Homo sapiens: one gene and its partners. The protein of the gene in region 1 purifies or fractionates together with the protein of each later gene. This does not show direct contact. Each region holds a gene or a part of one and is shown in the gene's direction. Other genes may lie near its edges.

Region 1 (7,026 bases):
ATAGAGGAGGGTTTTTTTCGAGACAGGGTCTCACTCTGTCACTCAAGCTGCAGTGCATTGACATGATCTCAGCTCACTGCAATCTCTGCCTCCCGAGTTCAAGCAGTTCTCCTGCCTCAGCCTCCCAAGTAGCTGGGACTACAGGAGCCCGCCACCACACCTGGCTAATTTTTGTATTTTTAGTAGAGACGGGGTTTCACCATGTTAGCCAAGCTGGTCTCGAACTCCTGACCTCAAGTGATCCACACCCTCAGCCTCCCAAAGGGCTGGGATTACAGGCATGAGCCACAGCGCCCAGCTGAGGAGGTTATTTTTGACCATTCTTTGCTCAGTTATTTATCCACTCATGGACTTATCCACCCATCTATCCATCCCTATCTAATGTATTTGACCATTCATGACTCATTTAGCAGAACCAGGACAGCCTGTATAAGGCACAGAAGAGTGAATATATGTGACAGGTCCAGAGCATTGTTCAAATTCAAGATACGTTGGGGGAGGTATAAATATGAGATTTTTTTCAAATCAATTGGAATGGCTATTTAATCAAAGCCATAGATGTTAGGTGGAAAGTAGGAATTAAGAACTTAACAAGTTAGGTTTAAATGTAACTATTCGAATTATAAGAACAAGTATTTCCTCTCTAAAAATGTTTTTAAAGTTTCACACAAAACTCTAAACCAAAAATCATTGTAAAAATCCCTTGGGAGTAGACTGTTGAAACCATTGAGGTGAGGTGATAGGTTAAGGTGAGCATTCTGGACATATAATATCAATAATAAATATTCAAATACAAAGCAGGTATAATATGAAGAGTAATTTCTATCTCCCCAAGCCAATATGAGTTTTGTTTGTTTGTTTGTTTTTCTTTTGAGATAAAGTCTCATTCTGTTGCCCAGGCCGGAGTGCAGTGGCACAATCCCAGCTCTCTGTAACCTCTGCCTCCCAGGTTCAAGCGATTCTCCTGCCTTAGCCTCCCTAGTAGCTGGGATTATAGGTGCCTGCCACCACTCCCAGCTAATTTTTGTATTTTTAGTAGAGATGGGGTTTCACCATGTTGGCCAGGCTGGTCATGAACTCCTGACCTCAAGTGCTCGTCCGTCTTCGGCCTCCTAAAGTGCTGGCATTACAGGCGTGAGCCACTGCACCCAGCCTGAGTTTTTTTTTTTTTTTTAAGCCAAAGGAGGAGGAGTAGTTTTGTGCACAAAAGCCACTATTTAGAGTTCCTTAGGTTTTAAACAGATAATTAATTTAATGTACTAACAAATGCAAAATTAAAATTTTACTTATGCCTTTTAATTTTAAGCTGAACTTGCTACATTAAGAGTAGGGTGATTTGGCTGGGCGCAGTGGCTCATGCCTATAATCCCAGCACTTTAGGAGGCTGAGGCAGGTGGATCACTTGAAGCTAAGAGTTTGAGACCAGCCTGGCCAACATGGTGGAATTCTGTCTCTACTAAAAATACAAAAATTAGCCAGGCATGGTGGCACATGTCTGTAATCCCAGCTACTCAGGATGCTAAGGCACAGAATCACTTGAACCTGGGAGGCAGAGGTTACAGTGAGCCAAAATCGCGCCACTGCACTCCAACCTGGGCAACACAGCAAGACTCTGTCTCAAAACACAAAAAAAGAATAGGCTGGGTACAGTGGCTCACGCCTGTAATCCCAGCACTTTGGGAGGCCGAGGCAGGTGAATCACCTGAGGTCAGGAGTTCGAGACCAGCTTGGCCAACATTGTGAAACCCCATCTCCATTAAAAATACAAAAAATAAGCCGGGTGTGATGGTGCACGCCTGTAATCCCAGATACTTGTGAGGCTGGGACAGAAGAATCGCTTGAACCCGGGAGGCGAAGGTTGCAGTGAGCCGAGATCATGCCACTGCATTCCAGCCTGAGCGACAGAGTGAGACCTTGTCTCAGAAAAAAAAAAATAGGGTGATTTTTATATAAAAACACTCTCATTTGTTCTTGAATTAATTGCCATATTGAACAGATTAAACTCCTTTAAACCATTTTTTCTATCTACAAACATAATTAGTATTCCCATAAGCATTTTAAGCTCCCTTTAAAAATTTAATATGCTCGATTTTCTTTTTTCTTTTATTTATTTATGTAGTTTTCCCAGACAGGGTCTTACTCTATCACCCAGTCTGGAGTACAGTGACACAATCCTCACTTACTGTAACCTCAAGCTCCTTGGGATGAAGCAGTCCTCCCACCCTAGCCTCTTAAGTAGCTGAGATTCCAGGCATGAGCCACCTCACCCAGCTGATTTTCTTTTTAAACACATCTAATACCTGACAGGTCGTAATTACGACTGTGCTTGGCCATATCATCCTAACACCTAAAGCTCACTTGTAAACTGAAAATTAAATTTGAAGGGTGAATTAACTTCTAGCCAACATTCCAATATCATTCTCACATTTAATGAAATTATCCTACAACTTTGCTTAAAAGCATAAAACTAGCATGTCAGAGTCTCTTAAAAATTACAATCACTATTTTAAATAACAAACATACAGGTTACCCTGAACTTAACACCTGGTTTTAACATGATGAAGTTGGTTTCTTTTGTCATTCTTATACTAAATTCTAAATCTTCCTGGCACTTAAGGATATTTACCCAAGGAAGGGGGTGAGATTTACCGGCTCAGGTACACCGAGGTTACTGGCTTGAAAATTCAAGACCACAGCATGGTAAATTTTTCTTCAGAGATTCAAGGTTCATACATAGGACTTGAAGGGCACATGCTACTCAAATGAGTATATCCAACTTGAGTGCTACATCAACAGGGACCCCATGTCCACTCTTTTCAGTCGAAATTGGCTTACTATCTACTTCTTCTGGGCTATTCAGGTTCCGACAATTGATTGCTTTCAGTTAATTTCTTTATTGCCCAGTTGAATTCTGCATTCTTCTAGATTCTTTTTGTTCCTTCAGCCTCAATCATAATACCATTTAATGACAGTCTCATATCCTATTAGACTAGGGTTTCTCAGCCTTGGCACTATTGACATATTGGGTCAGATAATTCTTTGTCCTGTGCATTGTAGAATTTAGCATCTTCCTTAGCTTCTACTCACTAGAAGCCAGTAGCACTGTGTGCACATCCTCCTTGCCCCCTGCCAGCTATGACAACCAAAATGTCTCCAGACATTACCAAATGTCCACTGAGAGGCAAATTCACTCCGAGTTGACAACCCCTGTATTAAACCCAGGGGCCCTGCACTTCTTACATACTTTTGTCTGGTCACCAGTTGAAAGTCCTTCTTCTTTTTTTTTTCTCTTTTTGAGATGGAGTCTCGCTCTGTCACCAGGCTGGAGTGCAGTGGCATGATCTCGGCTCACTGCAGCCTCCACCTCCCGGGTTCAAGCAATTCTCCTGCCTCAGCCTCCTGAGTAGCTGGGATTACAGGCACGTGCCACCACCCAGCTAATTTTTGTATTTTTAGTAGAGGTGGGGTTTCATCATGGTGGCCAGGATGGTCTCAATCTCTTGACCTCGTGATCCGCCCACCTCGGCCTCCCAAAGTGCTGGGATTACAGGTGTGAGCCACCGTGCATGACCAAAAGTCCTTCTAATAGCAAAGTGGAAAGGTAGGCTGTGAACAATCTTGAATGCCATACTAAGATTTGTACTTATTCTCATAGGCAGTGAAGAGCCATCAATAGTTTTTACAGAGGCTGACCTGATAACTCTGGCGGTTCAATGTGCATGCTATATACTATATGCACAACACATTAGGAAGGAAGGGAACAGCGCTCAGAGAAATCAAATCACTTGCCCATATTACATAGCTCGTCAGTGGTGGAGTCAGGGTATAATCAGAAACTCATGCTCCTTCCTCTACCTCTCCCCAGCACAGAGTTGGATCAGCACTGTTCACCCAGCTGGTATCCCCATTTCATGGTAAAGCCTGGAAGCTTAGGTCTGACTGATGCTTGTTGAAATACAGACTGTGGGAGCAGACTGCAGGACAGCATTGTGACAGAGGGTGGGGCCAGGAGAGAGATGCGGTAGGAAGACTGTTAAGATGCATCTCTTATTTTCTAGGTGGGGCAGCTGCAGCTCTCCCACAATCTGAGTTTGGTGATCCTGGTACCCCAGAACCTGAAACATCGTCTTGAAGACATGGAACAGGCTCTCAGCCCTTCTGTTTTCAAGGCCATCATGGAGAAACTGGAGATGTCCAAGTTCCAGCCCACTCTCCTAACACTACCCCGCATCAAAGTGACGACCAGCCAGGATATGCTCTCAATCATGGAGAAATTGGGTGAGCTCTGGCAGCTTAGGGTTACTCCCAGGCCATCAGAGGAGAAAGGGGGGATCCCTAAGATGTAGTTAGCATTCTCTAGAGTATTTTTTACATCCATAATCTCAGTTTGTCCTGCAACCCTGCAAGTTAGAGGGGTAGGTGCTATTATCCCATTGGATCATTGTGGAAATGGAGGCTCAGAAGCTTTATGTGACTTACCCAGAGATTCCATGATTTACCCTTGAGCTAGTCAGAGGCAAACCAGAACACCGACCCAGGTCTCCAGCTCTCCTGAGTTTTTTCTATGGTTCCTTGTGACATAGGCAGTGGAACAGTGGGACAGGTAACCGAGGTGAATTATGGATGCTCCTTCCCCAGACACATTTCAAAACAGTCAGCCACCCCGTGGAATATGCAAGAAGCTATCTGGAAGTGCAGATCTGGAGGCTTCTGAGTTTACGAGAGGCAACAGAGACTCCATTTTCTTTTTTTTTTTTTTTTTTGAGACGGAGTCTTGCTCTGTCACCCAGGACAGGCTGGAGTGCAGTGGTGCGATCTCTGCTCACTGCAAGATCCGCCTCCCAGATTCACGCCATGCCATTCTCTCGCCTCAGCCTCCCGAGTAGCTGGGACTACAGGTGCCCGCCACCACGCCTGGCTAATTTTGTTTTTGTATTTTTAGTAGAGACGGGGTTTCACTGTGTTAACCAGGATGGTCACAATCTCCGGACCTTGTGATCCACCTGCCTCGGCCTCCCAAAGTGCTGGGATTACAGGCATGAGTCACCGCGCCCAGCCCAGAGACTCCATTTTCTAACCTTTGTTTTTTTGTTTGTTTGTTTTTGAGACGGAGCCTCACTCTGTCACCCAGGCTGGAGCGCAGTGGCATGATCTTGGGTCACTGCAACCTCCGCCTCCTGGGTTCAAGTGATTCTCCTACCTCAGCCTCCCAAGTAGCTGGGATTACAGGCACCTACCACCACGCCCAGCTAATTTTTTTGTATTTTTAGTAGAGATGGGGTTTCACCATGTTGGTGAAGCTGGTCTTGAACTCCTGGGCTCAAGTGATCCACCCACCTCGGCTTCCCAAAGTGCTGGGATTACAGGTGTGAGCCACTGTGCCCAGCCTCATTTTCTAACCTTTGATCTCATGTCCAGCCCTGTCACTTCATTTCTTGTTAGAGAATTTGACCGCCTAACACATGATTCCATTTCCTTGTATATGTCATCTGTATAGGAAGAAAACCTCTTTTTTATTTTCATTCAACACTTCTGGCCACCAAACAGGTGTGGGAGTGTTTTCTAAGCAATTCTCCAGTTATCTGGGGACACCAACTGGGTGTCCTACAATTGAATCCAATTCTAACACTCTACCTGGAAATAACATCAGATCCCGTGCAGTTTAAGTGCTCCGCCCCAGCAAATTTCCCCCCGTTTCCAATGTCAGTTACAAGACTGGGTTGTCACCTGTGCATCAGACCAACCAGCTATAATTTGGAGATTCCCACAACTCCCTGCTAGGGTTTCATCATTTGCTAGAATAGCTGACAAAACTCAGGAGACACTTACATTTACTGGTTTATTATGTAAAGGATTAAGTAAAGGATACAGATGAACAGCCAGTTGAAGAGATACATAGGGCAAAATCTGGAAGGGTCCTGGGCCCAGCAGCATCTATCCTGTGGAGTTCTGTTTGCTACCTTCCTGACACATGTATGTGTTCACCAACCAGAAACTCTCAGAACCCTGTACTTTAGGAGAAGTCATCATGTAGGCATGATTGATTATTACCCAATCTCCAGCTCCTCTCTTCTCCCCAGAGGATGGAGAGAGGGGCTGAAAGTTCCAAGCTTCTAATCACACTTGGTCTTTCTGGTGACCAGCCCCAATCCAGGAGCCAGCAGGAGTAGCCTCATTAGCACAAAAGGCATTCCTATGACCCAGGAAATTCCAAGGGATCTAGTAGCTCTGTGTCAGGAACTGGGATCGGAGACCAAATATTAGATGGTCTAATATTTGGAGCTAAAGATGCTCCTATAGCATATTTTCCCATTATTTCACAGCATCATGGCATTGCATATAACCTCATTTTTTCATATATGACCTATCTCTGATCTATTACCTCACTTCCAAGGTCCTGGGAGATAAGGAGGCAATGACATCATTTTTCAGGGTTGTTTTAGGGATGAGGGGCAAGGCCTCTCACCTTGAGAGAGAGTGGCAGTGTTGGGCCCACTAATAGAGGATCCCACGAACTGCCAGAGGGTACAGTATGTAATCTGGCAAACAAGGGAAGAGGAAGAGAGCACTGGGACTCAGGATGAACCCAGAGAATTCAGGACAAAGGTCTCCATCAGCTGAGGGTATCATGCTGGCTTCTGACTCTGTTTTTCTCTGGTTTTGCCCTAGAATTCTTCGATTTTTCTTATGACCTTAACCTGTGTGGGCTGACAGAGGACCCAGATCTTCAGGTTTCTGCGATGCAGCACCAGACAGTGCTGGAACTGACAGAGACTGGGGTGGAGGCGGCTGCAGCCTCCGCCATCTCTGTGGCCCGCACCCTGCTGGTCTTTGAAGTGCAGCAGCCCTTCCTCTTCGTGCTCTGGGACCAGCAGCACAAGTTCCCTGTCTTCATGGGGCGAGTATATGACCCCAGGGCCTGAGACCTGCAGGATCAGGTTAGGGCGAGCGCTACCTCTCCAGCCTCAGCTCTCAGTTGCAGCCCTGCTGCTGCCTGCCTGGACTTGGCCCCTGCCACCTCCTGCC
Region 2 (7,026 bases), about 10 Mb from region 1:
TGCCAGCAGGAGTGGCTCACCGAGGCATCTGTGATCTGGCCTCCTTTTCAGCCCCCTGCCTGGGATGCGCCAGCCACTGAGCCTTCAGGGACCCAGCAGCCAGCCCCGTCTACAGAGAGCAGTGGCCTGGCACGTGAGTTCAGCCCAGATTCCAACCAGGTGCCCTGGTCCTAGGAGAGGACTCAGGGTTTGGAAGGGGACATCTGGCCATGACAATAGGAGCAGGGGTCCTCCTGTATCTTTGGGTGGGCCGGGATTCATTTTAATCCTTGGAGGAAGTGGTAGATATTCCTTTTATCTTTTGGTGGCAAGCTGAGGAAAGCCACCGATTCTTGTCCCATCACTTCTTTCAAGGGGAGGTTGCAGGAAGCTAGGAGCTCATCTCTAACTCCTACCATTGCATCCACAGAGCCGGAGCATGGCCCCAACACAGACCTGCTTGGCACCTCACCCAAAGCCTCACTGGGTCAGTATGCCAGCGGGCAGGCGTGGGGTGTCTGGGAGAGGGTGGACCTCAAATGTTCTTTTCAGAGGTCCTACTGCCTGGCCGTGTGGACAGAGGCCACAGGAGACTGAGCATCTATCTGATTCTCTGGAGTGGGGACTGTGATTGAAATAGTGGATGCAACACTGATTTTAGAGCCAAGCCCTTTGAATTGATGAATCTGGGTGGGCTGGTGTATAAGGCCTGGGGTCTGCCTCTGAGTGTGGGGCTGGGTCTAGCCAAAGTGTTGGGGAGGCCAGCATGAGACTGGACACCTATCCCTGGGCTCTGAGGCAGGGCTGGCTTGTCTGGTGCATTTCCGGGGGTGGAGGGACAGCTCTGAGCTGCCGAAGGCTGGAGGTGACATTGTTCTTTCTCAGCCAGTACCCCAGCCTGTCCTTTAACTCTTTCCTACATTTTCCTTAGTGTCTTTCAGACTTGGTTCAGGGCGAACAGTCCATTTGCTGACCTCGGTTTGTTCTGTTGACTCTTGGGGGTTGGGGCTGGAACCCAGCAGAGTGACTGTCAGACTGATCCATGAGAAGGCTGGCATAGCTTGGTCTGAAGCAGGGCTTCATAGAGACCGCTGGGCTTGGGAGCTCTGTGGAGGCTCTGGGGTGGGCCTCTTGTTAGCCACAAGTCTGTTTCTCCTCCAGAGTCCGTGTATCTGTCAGCTAAAGGGGCCCTTCCTGCCAGAGGTAACTGACAGCTGCTTGGGGAGCCCAGCCCCTGTTCTCAGCTTCCTGCTTTAGAAGCGGAGCCTGGTGCTCACCATATGCTCCCTGCCTCGCAGTCTTTGTTTTGGTTCAGGGAATTTGGACGTCTCTGGTGCTTCGGACGTCTCTGGTGCTTCAGGTCTAGGTTCCTGTCTCACTCTGCTGGGTGCCAGTAAATACCCCAGCCACGTCTGTCTTTGGCTTTGACACCGCTGGTTGGAGCTGGTGGTGGCAGCTTTGCCTTCCCTTGCCTGAAGCTGTTCTTAGGAGCTCTTGCCATGAAGCTGCATGGTGTATACTGAGCTACTGCCTCTGAGCTGCCTTTGTCTTAGCTCATGCCTACCCGTTTCTCACGCAGAACTGAAAAGCTCCATCATTGGCAAGAAGAAGCCAGCAGCAGCTAAGAAAGGGGTAGGTGGGGAGAGGTGGTATGGTAGAGGGGTTAGGAGCTGGGTGCAGGCTACCTGGGTTCACTCCTTGACCTTACCACTTACCAGCTATATGACTTTGGCAAAGGTACTGTGTTTCTCCGAACCTCGCCTGTGAAAGGGATTTAAAGATTTAAAGGGATTTAAAGCCTGTCTTCAAGGGCTGCTGGGAGGAGTCGGTGAGATGGAGCACATCTAGTGCTTGGCGGAGTGCTTGGCACATACTTGGCCCTGTCAGCATTAACTGCCGTCCTCAGGCCCGGGCTCTGCTGGGGCTGTGTGAGCCGCCCATGCCCAGCTCCAGCGGAGCACTATTGTCTTGGCCATGCTGGTTGGGCTCCTGTTTTTTACCCTAAATTTTAAGAAGGGCCTTTTCCTTGTGGGTGTGGCTACAGTGCCTGAACCTGGGAGGGATCTGAGGAGAGTGTGATTGGGAAGGCCCCTTACATGATTCTGTTCCCAGCTGGGTGCCAAGAAAGGCCTAGGGGCCCAGAAGGTGAGCAGCCAGAGCTTCAGTGAGATTGAGCGGCAGGCTCAGGTGGCAGAGAAGCTCCGTGAGCAGCAGGCAGCCGATGCCAAGAAGCAGGCGGAGGAGTCCATGTAAGTGTTTGCTGCCGGGGCCTCAGGCTTCTGCGGGGCTTGGTGGGTGGGTATGTTGGACAGGTCAGGATGGGTGGTGGCCACTGACACCTTTGTTCCCCCTAAGGGTCGCCTCCATGCGTCTGGCCTACCAGGAGCTCCAGATTGATCGTAAGAAAGAGGAAAAGAAGCTACAGAATCTGGAAGGGAAGAAGCGAGAGCAGGCAGAAAGGTTGGGCATGGGCTTGGTATCCCGAAGGTGAGGCTCAGCTCCGGGTGTGGCAGGGAAATGCCGTTGTTTTCTGGGAACCATTGCGGGGCCTTCCTAGCAGTTTGGGATGCTAGGCTTATTGTTTCTCCAAGTCTGAATAGATCACTTGGCTTATTGTTCTAAAGTCCCTAATACAGTGCTTGGCGCATAGTAGGTATGTGCTCAGTAAGTTGAATGACTGAATAGGTATGTGAACAAAACACAGGATCAGGTGTTATTTCAGTATCTTCAAGAGACTAGGGTGGTTTTTCTTGATGGCACTTTGAGTCATGGGACAGTTTATTTTTCCAGACCTCCCTGAGAATTGCGGTGCATTTAGTATCATCCTTAATTCCTGTCTAGAGATGCCATTTGTGCTCCCTGTAATACCCTCACATATCCCCCACATTTCAAATGCCCTCAGTTTGGGTGGAATCCTTCCTGTTTCAGAACCACTCGGTTTGCTGTGGTTTTCTTTCTTTTTCTTTTGAGACAGATTCTTGCTCTGTTGCCTAGGCTGGAGTGTAATGGTGTGATCTCAGCTCACTGCAACCTCTGCCTCCTGGGCTCAGGTGATCCTTCCACTTCAGCCTCCCAAATAGCTGGGACCACAGCCGGGAGCCACCATGCCCAGCTAATTTTTTTACTTTTTGTAGAGACAGGGTTTTGCTATGTTGTCCAGCCTGGTCTCGAATTCCTGGGTTTAAGTACCTTGGCTTCACAAAGTACTGGGATTACAGATGTGAGCCACCATGTCTGGCTGCTATGGCTTTTTATTTTTATTTTTTGAGACAAAGTCTCACTCTGTCACCCAGGCTGGAGTGCAATGGCACGATCTTGGCTCACTGCAATCTCTACCTCCTGGGTTCAAGTGATTCTCCTGTCTCAGCCTCCCAAGCAGCTGGGATTACAGGTGTGTACCACCGTGTCTGGCTAATTTTTTGTATTTTTAGTAGAGATGGGGTTTCACCATGTTGGCCAGGCTGATGTCGAACTCTTGACCTCAAGTGATCCACCTGCCTCAGCCTCCCAAAGTGCTGGGATTACAGGCATGAGCCACGGTGCCCGGCTTTCTTTTTTCTTTTCTTTTCTTTTTTTTTTTTTTTTTTTTGAGATGGAGTCTTGCTCTGTCACCCAGGCTGGAGTTCAGTGGTGTGATCTCAGCCCACTGCAGCCTCCGCCTCCCAGATTCAAGCAATTCTCCTGCCTCAGCCTCCTGAGAAGCTGTGATTACAGGCATGTGCCACCATGCCCAGCTTATTTTTGTATTTTAGTAGAGATGGGGTTTCACCATGTTGCCCAGGCTGGTGTAAAACTACTAGCTTCAAATGATCTGCCCGCCTCGGCCTCCCACAGTACTGGGATTACCGGTGTGAGCCACGGCGCCCAGTGCTTGGATTACGGGCGTGAGCCACATCCAGCCAGAGCATAACATTTTAACTTGAAAGGACATTGGGTCTCCCTCCTTTCCCTGCTTCAGTCACATAGGAATGACTGGGTTAATAGATGACTGGGTTAAGGGATGACCAAGGGGTTAAGGCATATGAACAGTTTTTTAGCAGTGCAACAATTGTTTACTTAAACCCAACTCACCCTATTTATTTATTTGAGACAGAGTTTCAATCTCGTTGCCTAGGCTGGAGTGCAATGGTGTGATCTCAGCTCACCACAACCTCCGCCTCCGGGGTTCAAGCTATTCTCTTGCCTCAGCCTCCACACCTGGCTAATTTTGTATTTTTAGTAGAGACAGGGTTTCTCCGTCTTGGTCAGGCTGGTCTCGAACTCCCGACCTCAGGTGATCCGGCTGCCTCGGCCTCCCAAAGTGCTGGGATTACAGGTGTGAGCCACCATGCCCGGCCCAACTCAGCCCTATTGCAAAATAATCACTCCTTGGGGTTCTTCTAGCTAAAAGCTATAGATATTTTTTAATGAATTGATTTAAATCAAATTAGTCCTTAAAGTGTCCTTGTGGAGCCTGACAGAGGAATGAGAGGCATCAAGAGTTGTATTGTATTGCCTGCCAACCCTAGACCCCTTTTCTTTGAGAAACGAGACAGCAATTCTAGGTCTTAGTGCATAAGGCCAGTCTTTGTGCTTTGAGGTGCTTTTTTTTTTCTCTCTGAGACGGAGCCTCGCTCTGTTGCCCAGACTGGAGTGCAGTGGTGCGATCTCGGCTCACTGCAAGCTCCGCCCCCCAAGTTCACGTCATTCTCCTGCCTCAGCCTCCCAAGTAGCTGGGACTACAGGCACCTGCCACCATGCCCGGCTAATTTTTTTGTATTTTTAGTAGAGACGGGGTTTCACCATGTTAGCCAGGATGGTCTCGATCTCCTGACCTCGTGATCTGCCCGCCTCGGCCTCCCAAAGTGCTGGAATTACAGGTGTGAGCCACGGTGCCTGGCTTTTTTTTTTTTTAATAAAGAGTAGGATGATGAAGAACTCATTCTTTGATGCAGTTATGTTCATTTCCCTGGTGCTGGGGCATTTCTTCATCCATTCCTTTGCTTTGTGAACCCCATCAGTGAAGGATGGGGTTCATAGTGCACAAGGTAGGGAGTTGTTCAGGACAGAGACCACTGGCATCTGGTGCACAATATTAAAATTACAACACGAGCCAGGCACAGTGGCTCACGCCTATAATCCTGGCACTTTTGGAGGCCAAGGCGGGTGGATTGTCTGTACTCAGGAGTTTGAGACCAGGCTGGGCAATGTGGCGAAACCCTGTCTCTACTGAAAAAACACAAAAAATCAGCTGGGTGTGGTGACGTGCACTGTAGTCCCAGCTGCTCGGGAGGCTGAGGCACAAGAATCGCTTGAACCTGGGAGGTGGTGGTTGCAGTGAGCCAAGATTGCACCACTGGACTCCAGCCTGGGCGACAGAGTGAGAATCTGTCTCAAATAAATAAATAAAATTAAATTATAACAGGCAAACCGTCACTGGCCAGGGAACTCCTACGTGGAATAAACAAAGCTGATGTGTAAAGAATTCTGAGGTGTGCTTCACAGGTCACCACACACAGCTAGCCTTCTGTTGGGGTCTGGCCCAGCCCTGTGCTTGGGTAAGGACAGAAGGCTCTGGGTGACGCTCCGTGAAGGAGAACCCAGTTGCTGGGCATTGTCTCTTGTGCGGTGATGCTGATGCCTATCCTTTGGTCTCATGCCTGGCTCTGCTTTGCTGCGCAGCTCTGTCTCCCACTCCGTGCTGTCTGAGATGCAGGTGATTGAGCAGGAAACCCCAGTGAGTGCAAAATCCTCTCGCTCGCAGCTGGACTTGTTTGACGATGTTGGTACTTTCGCCTCTGGACCCCCAAAGTAAGGCTGTTTTCTAGCTGTAAACTTGGCTGCTGTGTTCCTCATCAGGCTTCTCTGAGCCACTCTACTGTCTCCCTAGGTACAAGGACAATCCCTTTTCCTTAGGGGAAAGCTTTGGCTCCCGCTGGGATACAGATGCTGCCTGGGGTATGGACAGGGTAGAGGAGAAGGAGCCAGAAGTGACCATCTCAAGCATCCGGCCTATTTCAGAAAGGTAGAGTGGGCTGTTTTTTCTTTTTTCTTTCTTTTTTTTTTTTAAACAAGCTGAAGGTAGAGAATTCTAAGGCAGCACTGTCTAGAAGAACTTTCTGTGTTGATGGGAATGTTCTCTGTGTTGTTTAATATGGTAGCCACTACTATGTGGCTATGAGCCCTTAAAATGTGGTTGGTGCAACTGAGCAACAATTTCTGATGTAGTTTAATTTCTGATAAACGTAAATAGCCACCAGTGGCTGGTGCCTGCCTCATTAGACAGGGCAGCAGTCAGGCTTCGGTTTGAGTTGTGCTTTGTCATCATAGAGGGCCTGGCAGCTTCTTTTGCTTGGGGTCCATTTCTCTGGCCGGAGGAGCCTGATTGTATGCTTCAGTCCTGACCTCCTTTCAGGGGTTTTATGTCTCCAGCCCCCTTCTTATTTTTTAAAACCCTACTCCATCTTAATCTGGGATCTGTTTAGTTGACATAATATCTGTGAGTTATCCCCGTATAAAATGGGAACGTAACTACTTCATAGGGTCTCCGGAAATACCTGGCCCAGTGTCCACATACTCAGCGTGAGATGAGAGCAACCATCTCCCTTTCCACACCAGGATGCTTTTGAGAGTAAAGGGGGCAGTTTGCTATTCATAGTTATGACAAGAGTAGGTATAAAGCCAGGCAGACCGACACATATGCTCATTGTAGTACTAGGCAAGTTGTCACTAGGATTAGGGTAGCAGCAGTTGTGTGGCCTCCTGAATGCTGACGAAGCTGTGTGCTTTTGGGCAGGAGCCTAGGCCACTGCAGGCTGTATTTCCACCCTGCCTAGTGCAGGTTCCTAAGCTCTCTGGGCCTTGGCCTCAATGTGGAGAAGGGTGACTCCTCACCAGGGGAGAGGGGCCCAGAGCCACAGAGCCACAGACAGAATGGGACCTGGTAACCCATCACCAAAAGGCCACTGGTGCTCTGTTTGGCCTCTGTACTCTGCCTCCCCTGATGATAATGGGAGGAGTCCGAGATATTCCACATCTTCCCCTCAGAGCCACAAACCGGAGGGAAGT
Region 3 (7,026 bases), on another chromosome or scaffold:
CACTGGCAGACACAGTCCGAGAAATAACCCCCACCCCAGCCCCACTGAAGCACGTTGGTTCACTGCAGCCTGTTAAGTAACACAAGGAAACCCCTACTGGCTTTCAAAGCAGCTTCAGAAACAGCCCCCACTCATGGAAGTGGTTCTTCCTGCTGAACCTGAAGATGTCCCCAGACTCTCTCTCAACATAGCAATCTAGGGAGCCACTTCCGGTGGAGATGAAACCCCCTTGCCATCTCTAAGTAAAAGGACTCAAAGAGGGGGAAAAAGGCTCAGGCCGGGCGTGTTGGCTCACACCTGTACTCCCAGCACTTTGGGAGGCTGAGGCGGGCAGATCACCTGATGTTAGGAGTTCAAGACCAGCCTGGCCAACATGGTGAAACCCTGTCTCAACTAAAAATACAAAATTAGCGTAGCATGGTGGCGCATGCCTGTAACCCCACCTACTCGGGAGGCTGAGGTAGAAGAATCGCTTGAACCCAGGAGGTGGAGATTGCAGTGAGCCAAGATCGCGCATTGCACTCCAGCCTGGGCAACAAAAGGGGAAGTGTGAGGTGTTACACTCTTCTCAGTGCCGGGCTAGCGGCCTCCAGCTTCCTCGACCGGCAGCTCCGCTTCAAGCCCCAGCCCTGACTTGCGTGCTTCAGAATTTGTTTTTGTTTCAGTTTGAGAATTCTTTTCTTCTAGGAAACAGTGACTGCTACTTTGGGAATGGGTCAGCCTACCGTGGCACGCACAGCCTCACCGAGTCGGGTGCCTCCTGCCTCCCGTGGAATTCCATGATCCTGATAGGCAAGGTTTACACAGCACAGAACCCCAGTGCCCAGGCACTGGGCCTGGGCAAACATAATTACTGCCGGTAGGTAGCACAGGGGTGGGGGGTTCAGGTCTTGGCAGAACGTGGGATTAGGGTGTGAGACGGGGGAAGATCCAATGTCTCAAGTTGCATGACAGACCCAGTGCGTGGGAAGCACCCATGGATATTATCTAATCCAACCTCTTCACTTGCTAGAATAACACATATTGTGAAAAGCAAGGTCTACCAGTTTTCCAACCTAAATCCCAAGTTAAGGGTCCTGGCCTGTAACCATTTAGTCCTCAGCTGTTCTCCTGACATCTTTATTGCAATGATTTGTAAGAGTTCCGTAACAGGACAGCTCACAGTTCTGTCTGACAACCCTATGAGATTAGAACACTACATTACTGACTGGGTAACAAAGTTAAAGAGAAGTTCTCCTAGGGTGGGGGTGTGCTGCAAGGTCAAGATGAACTCGGTGTCCTCCCTCCCAGCTCAGTGGTTTTCATTGGTTGACTGAGTCTCCTTCTACTCTTACATGGCCTGTGATGTGGCTGAAAATGGGATTGAAAATCTTAAACTCCTGGCCTGGTGTGGTGGTGCATGCCTGTAATCCCAGCACTTTGGGAGGCTGAGGCAGGAGGATTGCTTGAGCCCAGGAGTTCAAGACCAGCCTGGGCAACATGGCAAGACCCCATCTCTACAAAAATTAAAAAATAAGAAGATAAAAAGGAAACCTTAAACTCTCTTATCATTTAGGAATCCTGATGGGGATGCCAAGCCCTGGTGCCACGTGCTGAAGAACCGCAGGCTGACGTGGGAGTACTGTGATGTGCCCTCCTGCTGTAAGGGCTGGGCCCCGGCTGCCTCCCTGCACCTGGTCTCCCTTCTTCACCATCTCCTCGCCACTTTCTAGGCCTTCATGGCTGTCTGGTGCAGACTGTGTGCCTACCAGACTTCCAGGCTGGGTGGGGAGGGGGCTTCCATGACTGAAGCCACGGTGGGTGGGCGGGTGTCCATGACCCATGCATGGGGGTGGTGGGGAGGGGCAAGAAGAAAGAAAAGAACACAGCAACCTCTCTGAGAAGTCAGTAGGCTCTACCCGGCTCTCTCTAGACGCCTCTATTGGTGTTGCTGAGAGTAATGGGGAATGAGGAGGAGGCCTCGCATGCATGGCTCCTTAGATAATAAAGTGCCTTCACCACATTTGTCCAACAGCGTGGTGGAGGTGGTCTTCCTACCTCCAGTTTACTGAGTAGGAAGCAGTCTCCCAGACGCCAGGTGGCCTGCCCAAGCTCGCTGGGCACCGGGAGGTAAAGCTAGGGCCTGCCCTCATGCCCTCTGACCCCAATGGCATGTACTTCCACTGTGAGATCTTCCACGTTTCCTGTTGACCTATTTCACACAGGGGAGCTGGCTCATGATGTGGGTGAGAGATAGGAGATTCAAGTTGGTGCATATTGCTAAAAAATGAAACTTTAGTTTGGAAATGGCCAGAGAGTAGGTTATTAATCACCTCCTGTGAACACAGATCAGCCAGAATGTTCCCCAAGGAACACAAGTCCAACTGGGACGATGAGACACAGACCACCAGCTAACTCACACCCAAGGGCATTAGTGTGAGTCCTCAGTGGTCCGTGTCCCTAAGCTCCTCAGAGCTGAGCAGGTGGGGACGTCAGGAAAGCTTTGCGAGGAGGCAGGATTGCACCTGGGCCTTGAAGCATGGGTAAGGTTGGACAGATGGAAAAGAAATGAGCAGACATTCCACAGAAGGAAGCTGCAATTCTTCATTTCTTAGGCCAGGAAATGGCTGTAGGAAAACATTAGAAGGAATGAAGGATGGCAGATCCCCAGTTTTGGAGTCAAACATACTTGGGAACTAATCCAGGTGCCATTGCAACCTTGGGCAAAAACGTCTCCGCCTCCTGAAACTTATCGCTGTGGGAACTAAAGAGAATGTATGGACAACATTCGGCATGCTGATCCCACCAAGTGAAAGTTGTGGTTTTACAGCCATGCTGATGGCCTCCTCACTCTACCTACACACGTGCAGGAGGCCTGTGGGACTGACTGCCTCCTCGTCCTTTCCTCCCCAGCCACCTGCGGCCTGAGACAGTACAGCCAGCCTCAGTTTCGCATCAAAGGAGGGCTCTTCGCCGACATCGCCTCCCACCCCTGGCAGGCTGCCATCTTTGCCAAGCACAGGAGGTCGCCCGGAGAGCGGTTCCTGTGCGGGGGCATACTCATCAGCTCCTGCTGGATTCTCTCTGCCGCCCACTGCTTCCAGGAGAGGTAGGGGCTCGGAAACCCAGTTGGTTTTTCCACCCTCTAACGCCTAGAAACCAAGCCCTTTAGGGGAAATCCCACAGCAAAAAAAGCATTCTAAGGCTGTTTCTCCACCAGGTTTCCGCCCCACCACCTGACGGTGATCTTGGGCAGAACATACCGGGTGGTCCCTGGCGAGGAGGAGCAGAAATTTGAAGTCGAAAAATACATTGTCCATAAGGAATTCGATGATGACACTTACGACAATGACATTGGTAAGAGCTCGTCATTCCCGGCTCCAGTTCATACAGATCACACAACACACCCACATGCACTCACCTATGTTTACACACACGGGCCTCCTCCTCCAGCCCCTGCCCCTCCTGCGTGTTCCTCCCCTCCCGGGGACGCGGCCCTCACGCCAGCTCACTCCTCCTTTCTCCCTCCCAGCGCTGCTGCAGCTGAAATCGGATTCGTCCCGCTGTGCCCAGGAGAGCAGCGTGGTCCGCACTGTGTGCCTTCCCCCGGCGGACCTGCAGCTGCCGGACTGGACGGAGTGTGAGCTCTCCGGCTACGGCAAGCATGAGGCCTGTAAGTGGAAGGAAGTCTCGGCCCCATCCTGTCTGCGGGACAGCAGGGGAGGCTGCGGTCCACCAGAGGAAAATGGGGTCAGGAGACCGAAGTTCCAGCCCCGGGTCAGGCACTGACGCCAGTCCCGTCTCCCTGTGTCGTGGGGGCCCGTCTCTGCTGTCTCTGCCTCACAGGGACACTGCAGGCCAGGAAAGGACACAACAGTATGAGGGCCTCGAAGTGCTGCAGGTGTTGGGAAGGTTCTGAGTAGGAAGTGGAGTACAGTCGCTAAGCGTGTGGGTTCTGGGAAGCTGGAGTTACAAAGACCCGATTTCAAATCCCACTTGCTGAGCTGTGTGACCGTGGACATGGATTTTTATTTTGAACTGCTCCCAGCCTCAGTTTCCTCGTTGGTAAAGTGGAGATAGAACTATCTCCCTAATTAGATTAGGAGGGTTAAATGAGATAATATTGAACGAATGGATGTCAGCTGGGGTGATTTTGTCCCCCAGGAAACGTTTGGCGAGGTCTGGAGACGTTTTTGGTTGTTACAGTTTAGGGTGAGGGTTAACGCCGGCCTTCAGTGAGTGCAGCCAGGGATGCTGCACACTGCAGGGCTCGGGACTGTCCCCATCCCCCACAACAGGGACCTCCCTGGTCCGAAGCATCAGCAGTGCCACTACGGAGAGGCTGTGGGTTCAATCCCGGAATCCTGCTGTTTTTGTGGGTCAAAACGATAAAATACCAGCAGTGTCATAGGATTCGACCTAATACATGTTGAATCTTGATCAATGTTAGCTATTATTGGAAAATTTGGCTTTCTCTTTCAAAAACGTTTATAAATAACTTTCCCTAAAACCATATGATGGTTCTCCCCTTTCAGTGTCTCCTTTCTATTCGGAGCGGCTGAAGGAGGCTCATGTCAGACTGTACCCATCCAGCCGCTGCACATCACAACATTTACTTAACAGAACAGTCACCGACAACATGCTGTGTGCTGGAGACACTCGGAGCGGCGGGCCCCAGGCAAACTTGCACGACGCCTGCCAGGTAACCAGGAGTGGCGCGCCCATGCTGGGCACAACCCAGGGGAGAATGCCCCTGGGACAACAGGTTCTTCACCAAAGAAAAAAGTTATCACCAGAGTGGAGTGATTTCCTCTTAGTGATACCCCTGGGGATTCTAGATGAGGGCCTCACAGAATAAAGCAACTGGAGGAAGATCAAAGTCACCTAAACCTAAGAATTCTAAACTGCAGGAAATTTCCCCAGGATCTGCACAGGCAACTCCACCTGTACAGGATTTCCTTTCAGCCCAGGCAATTGATTGACTATTGAAGTGATGGAGAGAGCCACACAATTAAGAAACGTTTGCCTCAGCCTGGTGTGGTGGTTCACGCCTGTAATCCCAGCACTTTGGGAGGCTGAGGTGGGAGGCTCACCTGAGGTCAGGAGTTCGAGACCAGCCTGACCAACATGGAGAAACCCCATCTCTACTAAAAATACAAAATTAGCCTGGCATGGTGGCACATGCCTGTAATCCCAGCTACTCAGGAGGCTGAGGCAGGAGAATCGCTTGAACCCGGGAGGCAGAGGTTGCAGTGAGCCGAGATCGCGCCATTGCGCTTCAGCCTGGGCAACAAGAGCGAAACTCGATCTCAAAAAAAAAAAAAAAAAAAAAAAGAAAGAAATGTTTGCCTCTGTTGGCACTAGAGAATTGGAGTCTGCTTTGTAGAAGGAGAAGGAAGAAAGGCAACTTACTGGGAAGCAGGATCTAGATGATGTGAGAAAGAAGTTTTCAAAACTCACATTCAGCCCTAATACCCTGGGAAAGCACACTATTTGAGGTCCTTTGTGTGGGCATCCTTATCAGAATTAGTACTTATATTTCATGATTAGCCAGATACTGGGGTATGGGAGGACAGGCCAGCCTGCTGGTATTAAGACCTGCACAGAGCCAAGGAATTGATCTTCCTCAGACATTTCAGTGCCTGCAGCGTGCGAAGCTCTCCTTTAGGGGCTGGGGGTAGAAGAGATACAAAGAGAAGTGAGGCCAGGCTCTGGTGCTGAAGGATGTGTGGGCTTTGTTTTCGCAAGGCAGTCATATCGGCGGTTTCCCCTCTGATTCCCTGACAGGATTTAGTTTCTTTTTGAATGGTTTCTTCAGCAACCTCAGCTGTACCAGCTTACAGTCCAGAAACAAAAAGGTTGTACCAAAGTGAAACCATTATCTATCTGCAAGCTTAGTTAAAAGCAAAACCAAATCATTTTAATTCAATATAAGAACAGCTAACAATTACCAAGAGTTTTACTAGATGTCTTCCAGTGCTTTTCATGCATTCTTCTACTGAATGCCATAACCACTCTATGGGTAGTATGAATATTATCTCTATGGTACAGATAAGAAAACCAAAGCATGGTTAGTCTAAGGCCATCAGCTAGTAAGTGATGGAGCCAAGCCAGGGTTTTTGAGGCCTGAAACGTTTGAGTAATTAACTCTACTTTACCAGAATAGATACAGCCTAATCCTCCATGGGACCAAGATAACTGAGATACAATCTACCCACTCTTCAGTAAGTCTCCACTTAACAGCATGCCTGGAAAAAATAGGTTCTTAGAAACTGCAACTGTAAGTGAAATGACGTATAACAAAACCAATTTTACCACCAGCTAATTGATATAAACAAGAGTTGGTCAGGTGCGGGGCTCATGCCTGTAATCCCAGCACTTTGAGAGGCTGAGGAAGGCAGATCACCTGAGGTCAGGAGTTCGAGACCAGCCTGGCCACCATGGTGAAACCCTGCCTCTACTAAAAACACAAAAATTAGCCAGGTGTGGTGGTGCGTGCCCATAAGCACGAGAATTGCTTGAACCCCGGAGGTGGAGGGTGCAGTGAGCTGAGATTGCGCCACTGCACTCCAGCCTGGGTGGGTGACAGAGTGAGACTCTGTCTCAAAACAAAAAAACAAAAAAAAACAAAAAAAGAAGAGTGAAGTTCTTGTGGCAATATTTCTAGTCATAAAAACATCAGCAAACTTCTAAATAAAGACCCAAAACACTTCTAACATTCAATATTGAAATAAATGTGAGCTATACAACATTTAAGAAAGGTTAATAAAAACAAACATGGTATTTATTTACCCAATTTTTGGAGAATAAGTGAATGATGGCGGCCATAATAGTGGTGGGTTAATTCAGGGAATAAATGTTTGCAAAGCAAAAATGGTAAGGAACACCTCTTACTACCATGAAGTTCAAAAACAATCACAAATAGGGCAGGCTCCCTGACTGCCTCCACACCTCACAGTTTATCATGCATTCGTGTATTTAGCACAGACTAGACAGATTTTTACTTTATAACACTTTGTATTCATTCATTTTCCAACGTGCTTATTC

Evidence for each region. Proteins that work in one complex are often made in the same cells at the same time.
Region 2: the proteins of SERPING1 (region 1) and ARFGAP2 purify together in Homo sapiens (affinity purification with mass spectrometry; 2 studies listed by BioGRID and IntAct, with this or other methods). This does not show direct contact.
Region 3: the proteins of SERPING1 (region 1) and PLAT purify together in Homo sapiens (affinity purification with mass spectrometry; 2 studies listed by BioGRID and IntAct, with this or other methods). This does not show direct contact.

What each region holds. Positions count from the first base shown.
Region 1 is NC_000011.10:57,607,659-57,614,684, forward strand, and holds part of SERPING1 (plasma protease C1 inhibitor precursor), read left to right. Parts: intron 1-4,058; coding exon 4,059-4,278; intron 4,279-6,669; coding exon 6,670-6,923; 3' UTR 6,924-7,026. UniProt on the Homo sapiens protein: Serine protease inhibitor, which acrs as a regulator of the classical complement pathway. Forms a proteolytically inactive stoichiometric complex with the C1r or C1s proteases. May also regulate blood coagulation, fibrinolysis and the generation of kinins.
Region 2 is NC_000011.10:47,166,866-47,173,891, reverse strand, and holds part of ARFGAP2 (ADP-ribosylation factor GTPase-activating protein 2), read left to right. Parts: coding exon of another isoform or gene 1-51; coding exon 52-133; intron 134-409; coding exon 410-466; intron 467-1,140; coding exon of another isoform or gene 1,141-1,182; intron 1,183-1,558; coding exon 1,559-1,611; intron 1,612-2,091; coding exon 2,092-2,228; intron 2,229-2,334; coding exon 2,335-2,466; intron 2,467-5,640; coding exon 5,641-5,769; intron 5,770-5,848; coding exon 5,849-5,983; intron 5,984-7,005; coding exon 7,006-7,026.
Region 3 is NC_000008.11:42,176,552-42,183,577, reverse strand, and holds part of PLAT (tissue-type plasminogen activator isoform 1 preproprotein), read left to right. Parts: intron 1-687; coding exon 688-859; intron 860-1,555; coding exon 1,556-1,641; intron 1,642-2,892; coding exon 2,893-3,088; intron 3,089-3,199; coding exon 3,200-3,336; intron 3,337-3,511; coding exon 3,512-3,652; intron 3,653-4,514; coding exon 4,515-4,681; intron 4,682-7,026. UniProt on the Homo sapiens protein: Converts the abundant, but inactive, zymogen plasminogen to plasmin by hydrolyzing a single Arg-Val bond in plasminogen.